2 separate regions of the Homo sapiens genome follow, and region 2 is linked to region 1. The links come from fine-mapping of genetic effects on gene expression. A gene starts in region 1. The other region holds a variant in brackets. All regions are shown on one strand. Distances are between the middles of the regions.

Region 1 (8,993 bases):
CTTCGCTTCCCAGCCTGACCACCCCTATTGGCTTCTGGAAGGTCAGAGGCACATTGCTCCTTTTGAGAGTGGCTCCCAGCCTCGTCCGGCTGGGCCCAAGGACACACACTGGACTGGCTGGCTGTTGCCATGGGAACCTCCCAGGGTTACCCTGACACAGGAATGTCTCCTCATCCTGCCTGGTTCTGGGCCACAGATGTTCCTGGCCCCTTCACATGCTCACAGCAGGGGTCTGGTAGGGACAGTGCAGGTTGCAGGGTAGGGGTGTGGAGGGCTGTTGCCTAAATCAGACAACAGGTTCTTCCCCTCCCCAACTCAGCTGCCTGAGCCACAGAAGCCCCTTGTTAAGCACTTATCTGAGTTCCCTGTCCCACCTCTCCCAGGTCTCCCTTAAGGTGGCCACCCATCTCTTTGGTAACCTTTGGCACCCAGGATAGGTGACTGCCGCTCCCAAATGGAGAACAACAGTGAACCCCTTCCCCGCTCACCTGTTCTTCTGGCTGGGCCTGTTCCTGGCTCACCTGTTCCTGGGCCAGGGGGGCTCCCAGCCCAGATCTTTTCTAACCAGAGCTTTGACCTGAGCGAGATTTGAAGTCGGAAACCCCAGAGTGGCGGTCTCCACCGCTGCCCACCTGTGGGCCTTGGGCAAGAGGGCTCTCCTTGCTTAAGGGCTCAGCTTTCTCATCATTGAAGTGGAGACCACAGACTCTGCTCTCAGAGGCTGTCCCGAGGGTGAGATGAGTCAATGTAAGATACATGAAAAGGCTTTGCAAGCTAAAGGGCACTGAAACAGAGCAGTTATTTTTATTGTACTTAACCTCTAAGGGGGAAACTGGGAGCCACTGGGAGCTACTGATATGGGAGGAAAGGGTGTTGGTTCCCCGATGTGGCAGGAGCTGGCGGGAAAAGATGCTAACTAGCATTCAGGTCTCAATACTGTGCTAGATGCTGTGGGGCCCCCCAATCCTTGCCCCGAGGCTAATTGGATTAGCTGCATACAAAGCAGAATTTTAATAGTACTCTCTTAATGGTGCCAGGAGCAGTCTGCCAACTGGGTGAAGAGGAAGAAAGGGGTGGCCTTTGAGTTGGATCTTGAAAGATAATAGGATTTCAGAGATGGGAGAATGGGGGAAGGTATTTCAGGCTAGGCAAAGGTGAGGCCTGAGGTAAGGGTGTTATAGCCTATAGCTAGATGGTTCACAGAGGGGGCAAATTCTGCCACTGGCAGCCTGCAGGTCTGAGGGGATGGCTACTGTAGGAAATGGGAGGGGTGCCACTAATCCTCACCATTCCCCCCACCCTCCACTTCCTCTCCAGAGCAGGGCCCCTTTGCAGGAGTTCTCACCAGCATGGGGCACTTACCTTCGCTCAGCCCCAGGGGAGGCATTCAGCAGAGGGGAGGGTCATCCATTGAGGTCATCACTGAGACTCTGTTCAAAATCAAAGGGACAGGTCATCTGGCTAGAGCAGGATAGGCAGACACCTGAAGCCACATGCTGTGGAGAGGAAAGTGCTAGATAGCTCCCTTTGGAAGGTCCATTGCCCATGGGTCAAACAGGCTGGCCATCAATGCTTGCTCATCTGGAATGACAGGACTAGTCCAGAAATAGTGGCATGAGGCCAGCAAAGGAACAGGCTGGCTGGGCGCTGTGGCTCATGCCTGTAATTCCAGCACTTTGGGAGGCTGAGATGGGAGGTTGGCTTGAGGCCAGGAGTTCGAGACCAGCCTGGGAAACATAGCAAGACCTTATCTCTACTAAAAATTAAAAAAAAAAAAAAAAGTTTAACTCAGCATGGTGGCACACACCTGTAGTCCCAGCTACTCAGCAGGCTGAAGGTGGAAGGATTGCTTGAGCCCAGGACATCAAGGCTGCAGTGAGCTTATGATCCGCCACTGCACTTCCAGCCTGGGCACAGAGTGAGACCCTGTCTCAAAAAAAGAAAAGAAACAAGCCATGGCTGTCATCTAGGTGGATCATTAACTTTTCTTTCTTTTTTTTTTTTTTTTTTGAGATGGAGTCTCGCTCTGTTGTTCAGGCTGGAGTGCAGTGGCGTGATCTCTGATCTCCGCTCACTGCAAGCTCCACCTCCTGGGTTCACGCCATTCTCCTGCCTCAGCCTCCCGAGTGTAGCTGGGACTACAGGTGCCTGCCACCACGCTTGGCTGTTTTGTTTTTTTTTTTTTGTATTTTTAGTAGAAATGGGGTTTCACCGTGTTACCCAGGATGGTCTCGATCTCCTGACCTCGTGATCTGCCCGCCTCGGCCTTCCAAAGTGCTGGGATTACAGGCATGAGCCACTGCACCGGGCCACATTTAACTTTTTTCCCCTGGGTTGTGGAAGGCAGGCAGAGCATGTTATATAATGTAACCAGTTCCACCAGCTAGTGGACTTGGGAGGGAAGTGCTACTTTGGGGAGTATTTGAGCAAGTGACCTTGGAGGGTTGGGTGGATGAGCATGTGAGTTTGCAGGTTGAGCAGCTTCTGGTGATGACAAAGCCCAGGGTGTGTCCATAGGAGCTGGCCTCTGAGGAGGAGAGGGGGGAAAAGGCTTTGAACAGCCAGGGCCAAGGGATTGAGCAGCGGGGTGTTGGATGGGCTGGCCATGACCGTGATGTCACCGAGGATGATGACAGCAACTCTGTAGAAAAGGAGACTGGGAGCCAGTGGCTGAGTCTCAGAAAATGAGAATGAGGCTGGGTGCAGTGGCTTACACTGGTAATCCCGGCACTTTTGGAGGCTGAGGCCAGAGAGGACTGCTTGAGCCCAGGAATTCCAGACTAGCCTGGCCAACATAGCAAGACCCCGTCTGCATAAAGAAACAAAAGAAAATGAAAATGAACCACCAGGATTGCTGGGCTGCCAGTACTGAGGAAAGCAGGAGGGTAGCGCAGGCAGGTGGCATGAGCCTTAGAGGAACCATAGTTTTCCAAGAGGCAGGATGAGTAATGGTGTGGAAATTAAAATGGGGAGGAAGGGAGGCCATAGACTCAAAGCGGATGCTGAGGGATGAGGGCTGGGAGACTAAAGCCTCCACTTGAGACACCAGTAAGGGACAGTGGAGTTCAGTTGAGGCATACTAGGAAGCCTAGTATGGGGGAAGTTTTTTTTTATTTTTTGAGACGGAGTCTTTTTCTGTTGTCCAGGCTGGAGCGCAGTGGTACAATCTTGGCTCACTGCAACCTCTGCCTCCCAGGTTCAAGTGTTCTCATGCCTCAGCCTCCTGAGTAGCTGGATTGCAGGTGCCCGCCACCACGTCCAGCTATCCAGCTAATTTTTGTATTTTTAGTAGAGATGGGGTTTCACCATGCTGGCCAGGCTGGTCTCGAACTCCTGCCCTCAGGTGATCCGCCTTGGCCTCCCAAAGTGCGGAGATTACAGGCGTGAGCCTGGGGGAAGTTTTCTGATCGCTCACTAGGTATTCAGGGAGCTGGATCTCAGAGTCAGAGAGGGAGGTAAGGGGCGTGCATTGGGTCAGGTGAGGAAAGAGACTCCGGGAGTAAGTTCTGACTCCTTCCATGTGACTCAGGTAAAACAGGAGATGTGGACTTTCCGTGGAGGCCCAAATACATGTTTATTGAAGATGAGCTGGAAAATCTGATTCTGTGTTGAATGACGAAGTGCTAAGAATAAATAACAACCCCTTACATCTGGATGATACTTGAGAACTTACAAAGTATTTTATTGTACCTTGTCATATATTTTCTTCATTCCTTTCTTATTATAACCCTGGGAAGTGGGCCTTATCAGTGGTAAACTCAGAGTGACTTGCTAAGTGTCCAAGCTGGGACTGAAAATCCACTCTGTGCTGCCTTCTAGGGCGTTGATGAGTGCAGTGTTTTCTGGGTTGCTGAAAAAAAACAAAAAAAACCCCAAAAAACAAAAAACCACCTCCTTAAGTCTGTTCTTTTTGCATCTGACCACTCTCCTGTGCCTCTTTTCAACATTCAGGAAATTAATGGTTTCTCCCTAAGTCTCCACACTACACTTTTTCTCTAGTGGAGGCAGTAATGAGTTGCAGGCTCTGTTCTGACATGCTCAGAAAAATGCAGGACGGCAAGTCATAGCCAAAAACAACTCGACGTACTCAGCTGGGGCAACCCGTCACCTACTGCGGGAAGAGGCAGAACCGGGGATGCAGGGAAAGGACAGATTATTCTTATCCTGCCTCTCAAACTTCTGGCTGGGAGCCAGACTTCGGATGAAACCAGGCAATCTCATCTAGGGATTCAACGCTCCCTTACTATTGATGTCACCCACGCCGTTTGCTTCCGAAAACCTTTGGGCCGGAGGCTGCGGCTAGAAAAGCAATCAAAGGTTTCTCGCCGGGCTTAAAGGGCCACATCTTAGTGACGTCTCGGGTTATAAAATCTGCTTGACAATGAAATATCGTGTGCGCGATTCTGCTCCTCCCCCGACATGACGTGGCCAGACACGCCGCTCGCGTCAGGGCTGCCTTACGCCCCCAGGAAGACCCATTCCCACTCTGGGGCGCGCGCAGATTTGCTGTGGCACATGTACTATAACGCACAGGCAAAAGGGCAGTTTCCAAAACGTCTCCAACGTGATCTCACTCCAGAGATTTTTTTTCCTAAAGTTTTAGGGCTGCGCGGAAGGGAACATGGGGTTCACCTCAGGAAATTTCAGACGTCACCCCCCTCGGAGGAAGGTAGTCGCGTCCGGTTCCTCCCCGGGTGTCAGTTAAGCAGGCCAGGCTGTGAGCGAAGGTTCTGGGCGGGGCTGGACTGTTCTAAGTGAGTTCGGGTGGGGGAGCTTCACGAGGGGAGGCTGCTCTGTGAAGGAACCGCCTTTCTCTCCGCGTGTCTCACCCTTTTCTCCCCATATCTGTTTGGACATGAGCTGAGGGCACGGTCGCGGGCGGTCAGCCCTGTTCGCAGCTACGGCGAGGAGGGGCGCGATTGTTCCTTGTTGCCGCTCCGCTTAGTGGCCGCGTCCATTCCGCGCGGTGTCCCGATTTTAGGGGTAGGGAGAAGTGTCAGCTTCAGGCATCGCGAGGCGTGGCGGCCCCATGGCCCCGCTGGGAGGCGCCCCGCGGCTGGTACTGCTGTTCAGCGGCAAGAGGAAATCCGGGAAGGACTTCGTGACCGAGGCGCTGCAGAGCAGGTGTCCGTGAGGCGGGAAAGGTGGAAGGGGGAGCTCTCCGCATCACGTGACACGAGGAGTGCTTTTGGGTGTCACGGAGTGAGCTTTGGAGTACGGGTCGTCCGTTTGCAAGGCAGGAGGAGCACTGGGCTGGGGAAGGTGGAATGCCACCATTACATAAAACAGTAGTCTACACAGGCGAGCCTCAAAGAAGCAGGTGACCACCTCTCCAAAGACCTTCAGCTGCAGGTCTCTCTGAGAAGCATTAATAATGGTTCCTACGAAGGCACTTTCTATATACCAGGCGTTGGATACCAGCCTGGGCAACATGGCGAGACCCCGCCTCTACGAAAAATCCAAAAAGTAGCTGGGCGTGGTGACGCGTGCCTGTGGTCCCAGCTATTCAGGAGCCTGAGGTAGAAGAATCGCTTGAGCCCGGGAGGCGGAGGTTGCAGTGAGGCGAGATTGGCCACTGCACTCCAGCCTGGGCGACAGAGCGAGACCCTGTCTTAAAAAAACAAAACAAAAAACCCTCTTCACCTCTTTGTTAGGTACTGTGTGCCATTATTAGCATCTCCATTTCACAGGTGAAGAAACTGAGGCTCTTAAAAAGTTAAACAGGCCGGGTGTGGTGGTCATGTCTGTCACCCCAGCACTTTGGGAGACAGAGGTGCGAGGATGGCTTGAGAGCCCAGTAGTGGAGACCAGCCTGGGCAACACAGTAAGACCCTAGTCTCTACAAAAAAATGGAAAAGTTAGCCTAGTGCGATGGCGAGCACCTCTAGTCCAAGCTACTCAGGAGGCTGAGGTGGGAGGATCGCTTGAACCTGGGGGCTACAGTGAATTGTAATCATGCTACTGTCCTCCAGTCCTTGCAGCAGAGCCTGAGACCCTGTCTCGAAGTAAAATAAAATAAAATAACATACGAAGTTAACAACAAAAAACCCTTGCTGGTCACAAAGTAAGTGGCAAATCCAGGATTCAAATTCAGCTTTGTGGTTCATGATGGGCATCTCAGCAATTAATATATAATTGAAACAAAAAGAAAAAAAACCCAAACAAATTCAACTTTATCTTGCGCCAAGGACTGGTTTCTTTCTGTTTTATCTGGCTGCCTCCCCAAATAATAATACCTTTTGCACAGTGTTTTCTGTCAAAGCAAGATCTTCTGTGCAGGAGCATTTTGCTGAGACCTGGGCTAGGAGAGCAGAGGTTGGGGAGAAAGTGGGGCTCCTCTCCTCTTGAAGGCCAGTGTGGTGGGGGTACCAGGAAGCTGCTTTTGGGTACCACGGGGGTTCTATGAAGGTGTGGGAGAGCCCAGAGCAGAGGTCACCACCTGAATTTTTCATCACTAAGTATCTCACCACCTTTTCCTAAGTTGCATTTCTCCTCACCTCCAAACCCTGACGTCAAATAGTGGTCCGAAGCACAGGCTCTGGAATTAGACTGCTGGGATGCAAACCCTGGCTCACTGTTGATTAGTGTGTGATCTTGTACACATCTGTCATTCACTCTGTGCCTCATGTTTTTTTTTTTTTTTTTTTTTTTTTTTTGAGACGGAGTCTTGCTCTGTCACCCAGGCTGGAGCGCACCCAGGTTGCGGCTCACCGCAACCTCTGTCTCCTGGGTTCAAGCGATTTTCCTGTCTCAGCCTCCCGAGTAGCTGGGATTACAGGTGTGTGCCACCATGCCCAGCTAACTTTTGTATTTTTAGTAGAGACAGGTTTCACCATGTTGGCCAGGCTGGTCTGGAACTCCTGACCTCAGGTGATCTGCCTGCCTCGGCCTCCCAGAGTGCTGGGATTACAGACGTGAACCACCACCGCACCTGGCCTGCGTCTCAGTTTTGTCATCTGTAAAATGGGGATGATAATAGGGTGGTTGTGGGGATTAAATGAGATAATGTGTGTGAAGGGCTTAGAATAATTATTGGCACCTAGCAGAGGTGCAGGAACTAAATGTTGGCTATATTTATTTTACCAATCTTGGCTTCACTACTTGCAGTGTTGCTTTGGGGGAGTCAATCCTCCTTTCACAACCTCAGCTTCCTCATCTGAAACATGAAAATAAGAACACTTACAGCCAGGGCAACATAGTGAGACCCCCTCTCTACAAAAGATAAAAAAAATTAGCTGGGTATGGTGGTGCATGCCAGTAATCCCAGATACTCAGGAGGCTGAGGTGCGAGGATTGCCTGAGCCCAGGAGTTCAAGATTGTAGTGAGCTGTGATCATACCACTGCACTCTAGCCTGGGTGACAGCAAGACCCTGACTCTTAAAAAACCAAACCAAAACAAAACAAAGAACACTTATCGTTGGGCGCAGTGGCTCACGCCTGTAATCCTAGCACTTTGAGAGGCCGAGAAGGGTGGATCACTTGAGCTCAGGAGTTCGAGACCAGCCTGACCAACATGGTAAAACCCTTCTCTACTAAAAATACAAAAATTAGTGGGACGTGGTGGCGCCGGCCTGTAGTCCCAGTTACTTGGGAGGCTGAGGCAGGAGAATAGCTTAAACCCAGGAGGTGCAGGTTGCAGTGACCTGAGATTGCACCACTGCATTCCAGCCTGGGCTACAGAGTGAGACTCAGTCTCAAAAACAGCACTTATCTTCCTGTGCGTTAAGTGTATTGTGAGCATCTCAAGGCTAGGACAGGAAGCATGTATCATTCACATTTGTATCACCTAGATCCAAATATGGTACCCAATAAATGGTTGGTTAAGCCAGGAGGCAGAGGTTGTGGTGAGACGAGATGGTGCCACTGTACTCCAGCCTGGACGACAGAGTGAGACTCTGTCTCAAAAAAGAGAAAAAAAGAAGGGCCGTGTGCGGTGGCTCACGTCTGTAATCCCAGCACTTTGCGAGGCTGAGGCGGGCGGATCACGAGATCAGGAGTTTGAGACCAGCCTGGCCAACATGGCAAAACCCCGTCTGTACTAAAAATACAAAAATTAGCCGGGTGTAGTGGCGGGCGCCTGTAATCCCAGCTACTTGGGAGGCCGAGGCAGGAGAATCGCTCAAACCTGGGAGGCGGAGATTGCAGTGAGCCGAGATCGCGCCATTGCACTCCAGCCTGGGTGGTGGAGCAAGACTCCGTCTCAAAAAAAAAAAAAAAAAAAAAGGTTGGTTAAGTAAATTAAATAACGAATGAGTTATTTTTATTTTTATTTTCATTTTTGAGATGGATTTTCACTCTTGTTGCCCAGGCTGGAGTGCAATGGGGCGATCTCGGCTCACTGCAACTTCCACCTCCTGGGTTCAGGTGATTCTCCTGCCTCAGCCTCCCGAGTAGCTGGGATTACAGGCATGCGCCATCATGTCCGGCTAATTTTATGCTTTTAGTAGAGACAGGGTTTCACCGTGTTGGTCAGGCTGGTCTCAAACTCCTGACCTCAGGTGATCTGCTGCCTCAGCCTTCCAAAGTACTGGGATTACAGGCGTGAGCCACCACACCTGGCTTTTGTTTCAGTTTTTTAAATTTGCTTTTCTTATTTCATTTTTATGAGACAGGGTCTCACTCTGTCTCCCAGGCTGGCATACAGTGGTACAATCATGGCTCACTGTAGCCTGGAACTCCTGGGCTCAGGAATGCTCCCACCTCAGCCTCTGGAGTAGCTGGGAGTACAGGCACATGCTGCCATGCTCAGCTAATTTTTAAATTTTTTGGTGGAGATGGTATCTCTGGGTCTTATTGTGTTGCCCAGGCTGGTCTTGAACTCCTGGCCTCAAGCACTCCTCCTGCCTTGGCCTCCCAAAGTATTGGGATTACAGGTGTGAGCCACCATGCCCAACCAGTGAATTAATAAATGATATATGTTATGGTGACCAAGTCAGTGGAGACAGATACCTCTGGCTATGAGAGAATTAGTTTAGGGTCTGGGCAATAACCT
Region 2 (11,274 bases), 210 kb after region 1:
CTGTGAAACACCCCATCTAGACCCTGGAAATTTGGAATGGTGGATGATTGATTGTTGTGATTACATTCCCAAAATAGCATGGAACAGGGAAGCTCCCTCTTCAGGCCTATTGGACCCCAGCTTTCAGGGATGATTTAAGTAGAGTTTTGCCTGGGCCTAGCGAGAGGAGGGAGAATGGAACCTGGGGAGAACCCTCTCCATCTGATGTTCCATTTTTAACGCTATGATATAGCCCTCTTTTTGGGCTTTCAGCCCAAAGTACTTTTGGAACTCCATATAAAGGAGAGGGATGATACTCCGTCCGGTCGAGGGGAAGGGAGCACACATCTTCCCTCTAGGATGGCTTCTTTTAAGCTATTTTTTGCTTTTGGAGGCATGGCTAAATTGATTACAGCTACAGACCAGGCTGTGCAACTGCCCAGATCCTTTGAAAATTGGGCACAGAGTCTCCTGTAAGTCACAGAAGCTGAAAAAACACAGCCGTCCTCGAACAAAAGAGGAAAATGAGGTCAGAAAAGGAAAGTTCACACAGACTTGGTTCTTTTCACTTTGTGACAAGGCCAACAAATGTACTGAGAAACACTAGATTGTTTTAATGGGGACCCTTGTGGGAAACGAGGAGAAAGCATTGTGAACTTCAACCACATTGAAACTTCACACAGGCTAGCCTTTGTCAGCCTGTGGGATAAAGAGAGAAATAGCTTCTAAAAGAGAGAGTAGGGAATGGATCCACCCATATGCATTCCTTCCAAGTCGGTTATAGATTATAGTACCTTTGAAAAACATTCTTTTCTGCTTCTCACACATTTTGTAAGACCTGATGAGCCAAAAATGTTACTGACAGATTCCTTCCATTCTGGGACCTCAACTGCTAGACTGGGTTCTGTGGCAACTAGAATTACTGTTTGACATACAGGATTCGGTTGTTGGCTTTAATAAGTTCATCATCTCTTTCCATGAGTGGTGGTCAGGGCGGCGCAGGGCACAGCATGCAGGCAGAGGGCGATGGTCTCTGACGGGAGTCCGCTTGCAGAAGGATGGAGCTGACTCCCGCTGCCTGCCGAAGAGCCAGGGGAGTAGTGAGTCTCTGAATTCCCCCTATGCTCACAAGCCAACCAAGAAGCCTAGCGAAGAGGATTTTAAAATGCATTGGGAGAATGTTGGAATGTGCAGGGAATTCCCTGCTTATTTCCCAGACAGTCAAGTATGCACCCAGAGGATTAGGAGAGAGAAAGTGAGTCCCACCATTCTGGGGGCTCAGCAGAGCCTGCTTCCTTGCCCACCCTCCCCCGGGCTCCCCTGGCACGGACCTACCGAGCAGACTAGGATCGCTGTTCCAGAAAATCCCAAGGGTCTGCTGCGGGCTCACTTAAAATCCCGGTTTTGATCCAGCAGAAGTGGTGTTGTCTTTAAAATCTCTGCATGACGGTGAATTCATGAGCCTCCTGGTGAAGGCAGGAAGGAACCGATTCCTTGTGCTGAGTCATAGCGTAAACCTTGAGGTGAAAAAGCCCAAGTGTAGAGCAGGCACAGTCACTGAGTGCACGTGTTCGTGCCAACCTGGGTGCCCTCTGTGAAACAAGCCCTGGGGAAAGGTATTGCCTCTTCATTCGATTATTTTCAGGAACACTCTCAGCCACTGGCAGGTGTTCCATCTGCACCCCAGCTGATGGCCTACCTTCTTTCCTCCCAGGCCTGCTGGTCTAGAGCTGGCAGTGGGATGGAGACCTGCCTGAGGGAGAGAGGGCCCGTGTGTGCTGGCCCCTCTGTCTTCCGCTGCACAGCTTGGCAGCTGACCAGGTGCTTAGTTGTTGGTTAAACCCCCCAAAGCCTCGGCGCCACCCAGCATCCTTCTCCATTGAAACTGGCTAGCTCAGCCTCCCAGAGGTCAGCTGCAGAGCACAACCCAAGAGGCACTGCAGACCCCTCTGTGGGTCAGGACATCAGAGTCCTGACAGATTTCAACAGATTTTTGTGGCTTGGTCGTGACCAGCCAGAGAGCTCAAGTTCCCACTCCACTCCCAGGAAATTACCCCCGTGGCCGCCAGGCGTGTTGAGTCTCTCATCTTGCCTCTTAATGATATGTTCTTTCCCCTCTGGTCCTCTTGATGTCCCCCCGCAGGGTGCAGGCTGCACTGCCCTTGTGGTGGCCGTGGTGGCCCGAAAGCTGGAACTCACCAAAGCGGAGAAGCACGTTCATAACTTCATGATGGACACTCAGCTCACCAAGCGGGTAAGATGCCACACAGCCATGTCTTATGGGGGACTTAAGGCCACAGTGGAAGCCAATCAGAAAGCAAATGGTCCAACGGGTGCAGTGGCTCACGCCTGTAATCCCAACACTTTAGGAGGCTGAGGAGGGTCGATCACAAGGTCAGGAGATCAAGACCATCCTGGCTAATACGTTGAAACCCCATCTCTACTAAAAATACAGAAAATTAGCTGGGCATGGTGGCACACACCTGTAGTCCCAGCTACTCAGGAGGCTGAGGCAAGAGAATTGCTTGAACCTGGGAGGCGGAGGTTGCAGTGAGCCGAGATCGCACTACTGCACTCCAGCCTGGGTGACAGAGAGAGATTCCATCTCAAAAAAAAAAAAAAAAGAAGGAAGGAAGGAAGCAAATGGTCATGTCGTATGGGTTTGCACCAGGCTTTTAAAGGGTGTGTTTGAGGGAACCCCAGACACAAAATGGAAACAGCACCTTCATACGCCGGGTTCCTGTCTTCTGTTCGATCACTGTGCATGGTTCAGGCAGCCAAATAATTTTCCTGGTAATTTAATTAATAGCCTACAATGGTATAACCTGCCCCTTTGCCTGATGATACCAAATAAATCACGGTATGAGGCAATGTTTTTTGTTTATGCTCAAATATTTTCAGGATTCTCATTAGGAAGGGCAAAACTATATTGAAAATATACCTAAAACTATAAAAGTATATTGAAAATGTACCTAAGTCTAATCCTTTAAAAAAAATCATTTAAAGAATCATTCTATGCTGGGAGCGGCGGCTCACGCCTGTAATCCCAGCACTTTGGGAGGCCGAGGCGGGCGGAGCATGAGGTCAAGAGATCGAGACCATCCTGGCCAACATGTGAAACCCCGTCTCTACTAAAAATACAAAAATTAGCTGGGTGTGGTGGCAGTCACCTGTAATCCCAGCTACTCAGGAGGCTGAGGCAGGAGAATCACTTGAACCCAGGAAGCGGAGGTTGCAGTGAACCGAGATCGCGCCACTGCACTCCAGCCTGGGCGACAGAGCAAGACTCCATCTCAAAAAAAAAAAAAAAGAATCATTCTAGTAGAGCCCACATCCCTAAATAAAATTGTTCATCAAAACATCATCATCCAATTTTTCCCTTTTGGGTTTTCCGGGTAATGTTTCTCACTTGAACCATTATGGAAGTGGTTATGGAAGATGAAAATCTGAAAATATGCAGGAATGGGTAGACCATTTAGCTGCTGAAAGTTGGACACCCCACTGAATTGTCTGAGATGAAAAGACCCATTTAGAATAGACAGATACAAGCCTTCCAGAATAACAGCAGGCCAAATGGGCAAGGCAGGAGCTGTTTATTCAAGGACAGCTTTTATGGAAAATTCTTTAGAACTACAGCCTGAAGGAAGGTCAGTAAGATGATTTCCTGCAAGACTGTCCTCTTTCTGAGACGAGACAGAATTAAAACCCTGTGCCCGTGTCTCGGCCTCCATAGTCTTTTTCATTTAGGACTGAAGTAGGTTAAGGGACCCATGAGCAACCAAATTTTGATTTGGGTTTTTGAAAGCTAGAGAAAATATTCAGTGATTAATGTTGCACAGCAGCAAAAATGTGTTAGAAATAGAGACAACGGCAGGAAGGAAGAACAAAAAGAGAGAGAGAGAGAATGACAGAGGGAGCTGCGAGCGAGCTCTTGGGGAAGGCAGTGGGAGAGTGTGCAGCGGCCAAGGCCTCTCCAGTTTCTCAGCAGAATTATTTATGGTGTTTGATTGTTTGGTCTTTGATTACATTTATTGGATTCTGTAAAGAGCCTTAACAGACATTAAAAGGAACTGGTACGGGCAAATATTCTTATGTTGTTGACATTCAAGTGTTTGTACTTGATACATCATGGCCCTGAGCTATCAGCTGCACCAAAAAAAGCCATGATTTGTCACATCACGATGGCAGTGATTGAAGGCTGTTATCACAGTAAGGCCTGCCGGGAACCCTGCCACTTGGCCACTCTCTTTCAGCCCCCTCTAATAATGGGTGCAAAAGTCATGCTCAGTATTGAGGAAATTATTCAAGTTATTGAAACACCTAAATGCAAATCCACTTGCATCTATTTTCCTGAAGCAATTTACTGAGGTTTCACTGGATTGAAACTACGTGCCGGAGTGAGGGCAGGGAGATGTTTTGCCTCCAAAGCCTTCTCATAAGCTGTTTACCAAGAGTAGAGACATTAGCAGTCTCTCTGTTTATTCTGGTTTTCTTTTTTAAGCCAAGAATATTCTTTGTATTTGGTGTTATTCCTTTGTCCTCTCCATTTTTCACCAAGTAGATCAGACGCTAGAGGAAAATAAAGCTGAGGAAAGCCAGCTCCTTTGTATGCCAGGAAAATAAACAATTTTTCTGCAATATAATTGTAGAAGATGAGACTGTGGTTGCTAATTTTAATCTTTCAAAAATGATTCCCTAACATCCTCCTCAATTCCACTTCTTGAAAAGTAGGACTGAAAATCAAATCAACAAATATTTATTGCTCACCCATGAATCTAAGGTAGCTTTTTAATCGAATAACATCTCACTTTTCTGAGAACACTTAAATCTGTTGAAATGTCTCTTTAATATCTAATATCTTTTCTCAAGGAAATAAACAACACAGAAGGGATGGTTCTTACAGAGAGAAGGTTTTCAAAGCTGGCAGGACTAGAACTTCTGAAGGTTCTTTTACATAACCTTAATTGAAATGAAACTGGATGTGTGCATCCTTGGCCTGCTCTGGTTTGAGCTGACTTTGACCTGCTCACAAGAGAACCCCACCTCTCTTCCCCTGGGGATGCCTGGCCTGCCTTCTGTCCTCTTGAAATGGTCCATTGTATCAAGCTGGAGTGGCTCATTGGTCAAGAAGATGCTAAGCAGCCGGGTGCGGTGGCTCACGCCTGTAATCCCATCACTTTGGGAGGCCGAGGTGGGTGGATCATGAGGTCAGGAGTTCGAGACTAGCCTGACCAACATGGTGAAACCCTGACTCTACTAAAAATACAAAAATTAGTGGGGCGTGGTGGCACACACCTGTAATCCCAGCTACTCAGGAGGCTGAGGCAGGAGAATCGCTTGAATCTGGGAGGCAGAGTTTACAGTGAGCCGAGATCCCACCACTGCACTCCAGCCTGGGCAACAGAGCAAGACTCTGTCAAAAAAAAGAAAAAAAAAAAAAGAAATACTCACTCTCAGACATGATCCTTAGAAGCTCTTGGCCGGGCGCGGTGGCTCATGCCTGTAATGCCAGCACTCTGGGAGGCCGAGGCAGATGGCTCAGGAGGTCAGGAGATTGAGACCTTCCTGGCTAACACAGTGAAACGCTGTCTCTACTAAAAAAAAATCCAAAAAAATTAGCCGGGCGTAGTGGCACGTGCCTGTAGCCCCAGGTACTCGGGAGACTGAGGCAGGAGAATCGCTTCAACCTGGGAGGCGAAAGTTGCAGTGAGCCGAGATCGTGCCACTGCACTCCAGCCTGGGCAACTGAGCGAGACTCCATCTCAAAAAAAAAAAAAAAAAAAATGCTAAGCTCAGTCTATTCATAACATCTCAGTGAATTCTCAGAGAAAGATCCAACATGAAGGAGTTGACTGTGGCATAATTGCAACCTCTTCGGAGTGGGCAATTAGTAGATTTGACAGATAAAAGCAGTCTCTTACCGGTATATGCAACCTTGATGCTTCAAAGACCTACGCAAAACGAAAAAAGGAATTGTAGCTATTAATCATAGAAAATACTCAAATTGTTCTAGTATTTATTCATCCTGTCTTGCTCTAAAGACTGCAGCCTAGCCTTTGCCATGAGAGCCAGCACTATTTTTATTTATTTGTTTGTAGGGAGGGAAGAGGGTCTGATAGCACTGGGTAAGAACTCAATTTCTGCTTTTCTTGAGTCCCATGCTTATCTTCTTTCCTCGTATGACTTATCAACTCTGGTGGCAACGTCATTTCTGTATTTAATTCAATCAGATCTTCCCACACTGACTTCGCAGTGTCACTGCCATTGTTATTCTGTAATTATAACTTATTGCTAATCTCTGGGCTACTAGATAATATTTAAGTACATGATTCACAGAGGGACTGGAAGAAAGATACTAGAGCCCCATCTTTTCTGCCACTTAGTGTTTTCATGTCCCCATCTTTCTGTTTTATGTAGCTAAACAGATCCATCACAGAGGCCACTCCCTGGGTGCCACACTCTGTACTCTGGGGGCACCAAGATGGGTAAGAGGTGGTCCTCACCTCCATCCCTAACCTCTGGTGGCTGACTGCCCTCAGAGAGCACTTCTTCTTATAAGAGGTAGAGTGGGCCGGGTGCGGTGGCTCACGCCTGTAATCCCAGCACTTTGCGAGGCCGACGTGGGCGGATCACTTGAGGTCAGGAGTTCAAGACTAGCCTGGCGAACATGGTGAAACCCCGTCTCTACTAAAAATACAAAAAATTAGCCGGGCATGGTGGTGGGTGCCTGTAATCCCAGCTTCTCGGGAGGCTGAGGCAGGAGAATTGCTTGAACCCAGGAGGCGGAGGTTACAGTGAGCTGAGATCGTGCCACTGCACTCCAGCCTGGGTGACAGAGTGAGACTCCATCTCAAAAAAAAAAAAAAAAGGAAAGAAAAAGAAAAAAAAGGCAGAGTGGGCTGCTATGGACACACTTGGCTTGGGAGGCACCATGGACCGGAGATATTTTCTTTGCGGTACCTACTCTCCACATCAAGCCACAGTGAGCAGAACCTTCAGACAGCACAGTGTGCTAAGGATCCTATCTCCTTCTTGCTGCAGGGGTTTCTTGCCCCAAGTAGCTCACCCAAGTACACTTCCCCATGAATTCAATGAATAAGACCAAAATTAAACCCACAACTTCCCTAAACTA[T/C]TTCCTTCTCCTAACTTCCCTGGTGTGCTCCTGACATCGTGTTCTTCCAGACGCCAGGCCTAAAGACTTAGCCCCATTTCTGACTCCTCTGGACCCTGGACCCCACGAGGGTCTGAGCACTTTCTGTGTCTGATTTCACCTTGCCGTGGCTGTTCACGCATGCCCGCCTCTCCAGGGCCTCGGCCCCGCCACTCTTGAAGCCGCCATCTTCTGTCTCGCACTATCACAGCAGCCTGCTACCTGCTCTCCTCACTTCGGCGTCCCTTACCCCAGTCATCCTGCACTCTGCTTCCCCATGGATCTCCTTAGACTCTCAGGCTTAGCTCTGAACAAATTACTTCCTGCTCAAAAACCTTTAAGTAGTTTCCCCACCTACTATCTCCTGAATGACACTGAAGAAAACTTTTCTTTAATTACAAGCATATGCCAAAGTTTGATCATAATCTTGCTAGAAGAAAATTTTCTTCAGCAGGCTAATTCAAAGATTACTCTTAGTAGTGGTATTTCGTAGGAAAAACAATGGTAGTCATTGTTATGCCAGATTATAGAAGGTTTAGCTAAAGACTGCTAATGGACAGCTGGTTGGGCTCAACAGTGGATTTCCAGAACAAGTCTTCAAGTCTTTACAATGGATCAGATAATCAATAGGGCAGTTATCAGGAATGCTAATTCTCCCCAGAAGAGGATTATAAATTACATCACGCACAAGGTTCTGTCCCAGACAGATTGGGTGCAGGTTTTCTTTAGCAATAGTCACAGAAACAATGTGCGTTTAAGCTGGAAGGACCCTTAGGGAAGAGCCACTCCAACCCACATGAGAAGACGAAGGCCCAGAAAGGGGCGAGGGTGGGCCCCCGGCCTATGCAAGATCCACTTTGCTCTCAGACCATCAGGCAGGCAGCTTTAGGGCGGTCAGTTCCTTGGAACTCAGCATGGGGTTAGGGTCCCAGACCTGCTGAAAAGAAAAGCCAGCTTAACTCCACCCTAACTGAGTATCACATAAATAGCATTATAGAATTATCCACCACCCATTACCATATTGCTACAGGGAGAACCTCAAGCTCCAACTCTGAACAACGGAAATACACCTCCTCTCTCTCTACCCAATTTCCTGCCAGCCAGAGAGGTGGAGCTCCCAGTTCTAAGTGGTCAGTGAGGGCCTCTGGGTGAGGCAGGCAGAGAAGCCTGTAAAGGGAGTGTGGAATAGAACAGGGGGAGGAAAAAGAGGAGGTGCAAGCAGGGTGATGAAAGAGAGGGCAGCCGGGGAAGCCAGAGCAAGTCTGCAGGGTGGTGATGAGGGGAGAGTGGGCTTGGCAAATGGGAAAGAGGAACCAGCCCCCTTCTCTAGTCCTGTGTGTAATGGACACCTTCAGTCAAGGGCTGGCTTGCAGGTTCTCCGATAGTGATCTGATCATCACTCAGCCTAATTTCAACCTGTGTAACTCCTTGAAGTTACAGTCATGCACTGCATAACAAGTTTCAGTCAATGATGGTGCACATATACCAAGGTGGTCTCAGAAGGCTATAACAGAGCTGAAAAATTCCTCTCCCCTAGTGATTTGTGTTACAGTGGCCTACAGTACAGGAATGTGCCATACAGGCTTGTAGCCTAGGAGCGATAGGCTATACCATACAGCCTAGGTGTGTAGTAGGCTGTCCCATCTAGGTTTGTTTAAGTACACTCTGTGATGTTCACACACTGAAGAAATTGTCCAAGATGTGTGTATTTAAATCACACCCACCGGCCAGGCCTCCCTTTCCCCGTCTCCAACCTCCAAGTAGAATACTTCCCTGGCAAGGGTTCCTGGCAGCATAATGGGCATGCTAGTGATTTCTTCTCTGGGGGGCTCTGCTAATGGGACCCCTGGAATTTCCCAGGGCTCCTGGGGCTGCTGGAGGCTTAGGGTGCCCAAGAAAGGTGCTCCTTTCATCCCCCTTGTACTCCTGCCCCAAGCATTCTTGCCGCAACCGACAGCCCCTCTGTAATAGCAAGTAGCAGGTTACCTGGGCAGAGAGGTGGCCAGAGCAAGTCATTGACATGGGATGCTGCGGCCAAGAGCTCAAGGAAGAGGTGTGTGTTCTGTTGTATGTTTTCTTGCTGGCTGGGGAAGTTAGAGGGAAGGAAGCTGACATTTATTGGAAGGAGAGAATATTAACAAAGGTACCATGTATTGAGGCATATGGCCAGGATCTGTGCTAATGTTTTAAGTATATTCTCATTTAATCAACACAGTAATCCCATTTCACAGATGCAGGTAGTACTTGCATCACTCTCTAGCCCTGGACCCTGCTTTGTTGTTGTGGTTTTTTAAGCGCTTGTTACCTGATGCTATCATACAAACTGCATACCGTCTTCTCCGCAGGATTGTAAGTTCCGTAAGCGCAGCAATGTTATTGATTTGTTCACTGTGGTACCGTCACTTGCTACAACAATGTCTGGCCCATCATAGGTGCTCATTAATTGTTCCTCAAATGTATGAACAAAGAGAGTCTCAGAGAGTTCAGCAGTGGGTCCAAGGTGGAGCTGATGATCACGTCTATTTATCAAGTTTTTCTGAGGGTTAATGAACCAGTGCAGACATATGTGCTTAGCACAAAGCCTGGCACGTAGTAAGCACTCAGTATATGTTAGCTGTCACCATAATTTGCAAGGTCTTCATTGGACCACTTTCTTGCCCAGGCCCATTAATCTTAGAGCCTTTCCTAAAGTAGATCATAGAGCCCATTGTCTGGCCCCAATCAGAGTGAAAGCAATTTTTTGGTAGAGAGTTTTTGGGCTTGCAGAAAACAATCAGCCAATTTGTTTATGGGTTTTGGAGGCAGGACAGCTGGACTTCCATTCACAAAGGGTCCTCTCCTAACCATCCCCAAACCCATCCGATTGTGGCCAACCTTGAGCCACTCTTTCTGGCTTGCTGCTTTCATCTTAAGCCCTGCCCTCTCGCACTGCTGCACCCTGAGAGCATCTTTTGGCCCTGGTGCCTCTGCCCACCAGGAGAGGTCAGGTGGTACCCAAGCCTCCCTCAAGGAAGGGTGCATGGAGCCCTTTGGAGGCTCGGCAAATCTGAGGAAGGGCACATGACCTCATGTGCTCCCGACCCCAACAATGCTTAGATCAATCAGCCAGGTGAACTGGAGGGAGACCCTGGCCACAATAGCATTTACTGTCCACCTGGGAAAGCACAGTGCAGTTAAAAGCCTATTTCTTTTTCTCTCGCAGATATTGATCTACTTAGCTTTGTGCCAGGCTGTTTGCTGGTAATTAATTTCAGAGTCAGTGCAAGGGCTGGCAGTTAACATCACTTTCCCGAATGCACGGAGGCCTCCCTCCAAACTCATAAAGATGATGTGACTGCCTCTCTCAGCTACCCGGGCCGTGCTGTGACTTCAGTATCTTACATTTGGGCTGACGTTAAGTGCAGGACCTGGACTCCGTGTTCTGTCACATTGCTAAGTGAGGGCCATGATGATTTAAAAAAAAAAAAAATCCAGTGCTCTTTCCAGTTCCTTGATCCTGGAAAACAGGAAATGATTTTGTTTGTCTTTCCTTCAGTCCACATGAAAACCTTCTGCTCTTCCTGGACGTGGCTCTTGTTTTGACTTTGCCATTAGCTAGCTGTGTGATTCTGGCTCTCACATCCCATCTCTGAAGTGGTTTCCTCGTATGTTCAATGAGGGGTTTGAGCTAGATAATATTAACTAATATCTGTATGGTACTTTACATTTTATGTAGCATTCACACCCACACTGACTCAGTTTGCCATTAATAATTGTCTAGTCTTGGTCTGTGTCTTGGTTTCTTCATCTGTAAAATGTGGATAATGTTAGCACCTCCCTGATGGGGTTGTGGTGAGGATTAAAGGAGCTTAGACATATGAAGTACTCAGACCTGTGGCTGCACCTGGTAGATGTTAAGTGTTGCCCCCAGCACCATCATCACTGCCTCATAGCAGCCCTCTTTATTTTTCCCATCTTACAGATAATGAAGCATTTGCTCCTAAACTGCTTAATAATTGACAGAGCAGGGATTCACCTGCAGACTTTCCAGTTTCCTTGAGGCTTTCCTAAGAGGCTAAGTGCGTAGGGAAACTGAAGAAATGACACATCCAATTGCCTCCTCTCCCTGCAAGAGGAGGGCAGTAGTATTAAATGTGTGCTCTGCA

Evidence for each region. PIP is the estimated chance that this variant, and not a neighbour inherited with it, causes the effect.
Region 2: its variant is fine-mapped to the expression of PMVK in whole blood (INTERVAL, PIP 0.97).

What each region holds. Positions count from the first base shown.
Region 1 is chr1:154,932,722-154,941,714 of GRCh38, reverse strand. It overlaps PMVK (phosphomevalonate kinase), which reads left to right and starts at 4,996. Exons shown (of 5, transcript NM_006556.4): 1 at 4,996-5,124. The coding sequence starts at 5,030. RefSeq lists enhancers at 3,606-4,547, 4,527-4,726, 4,548-5,490 and a silencer at 5,447-5,546.
Region 2 is chr1:154,716,875-154,728,148 of GRCh38, reverse strand. KCNN3 (potassium calcium-activated channel subfamily N member 3) reads left to right here. Exons shown (of 8, transcript NM_002249.6): 5 at 2,123-2,233. It overlaps LOC124904429 (a long non-coding RNA gene), which reads right to left and starts at 1,438. Exons shown (of 2, transcript XR_007066638.1): 1 at 1,311-1,438; 2 at 919-1,057. The variant T/C (reference allele first, on the strand shown) is at 7,112.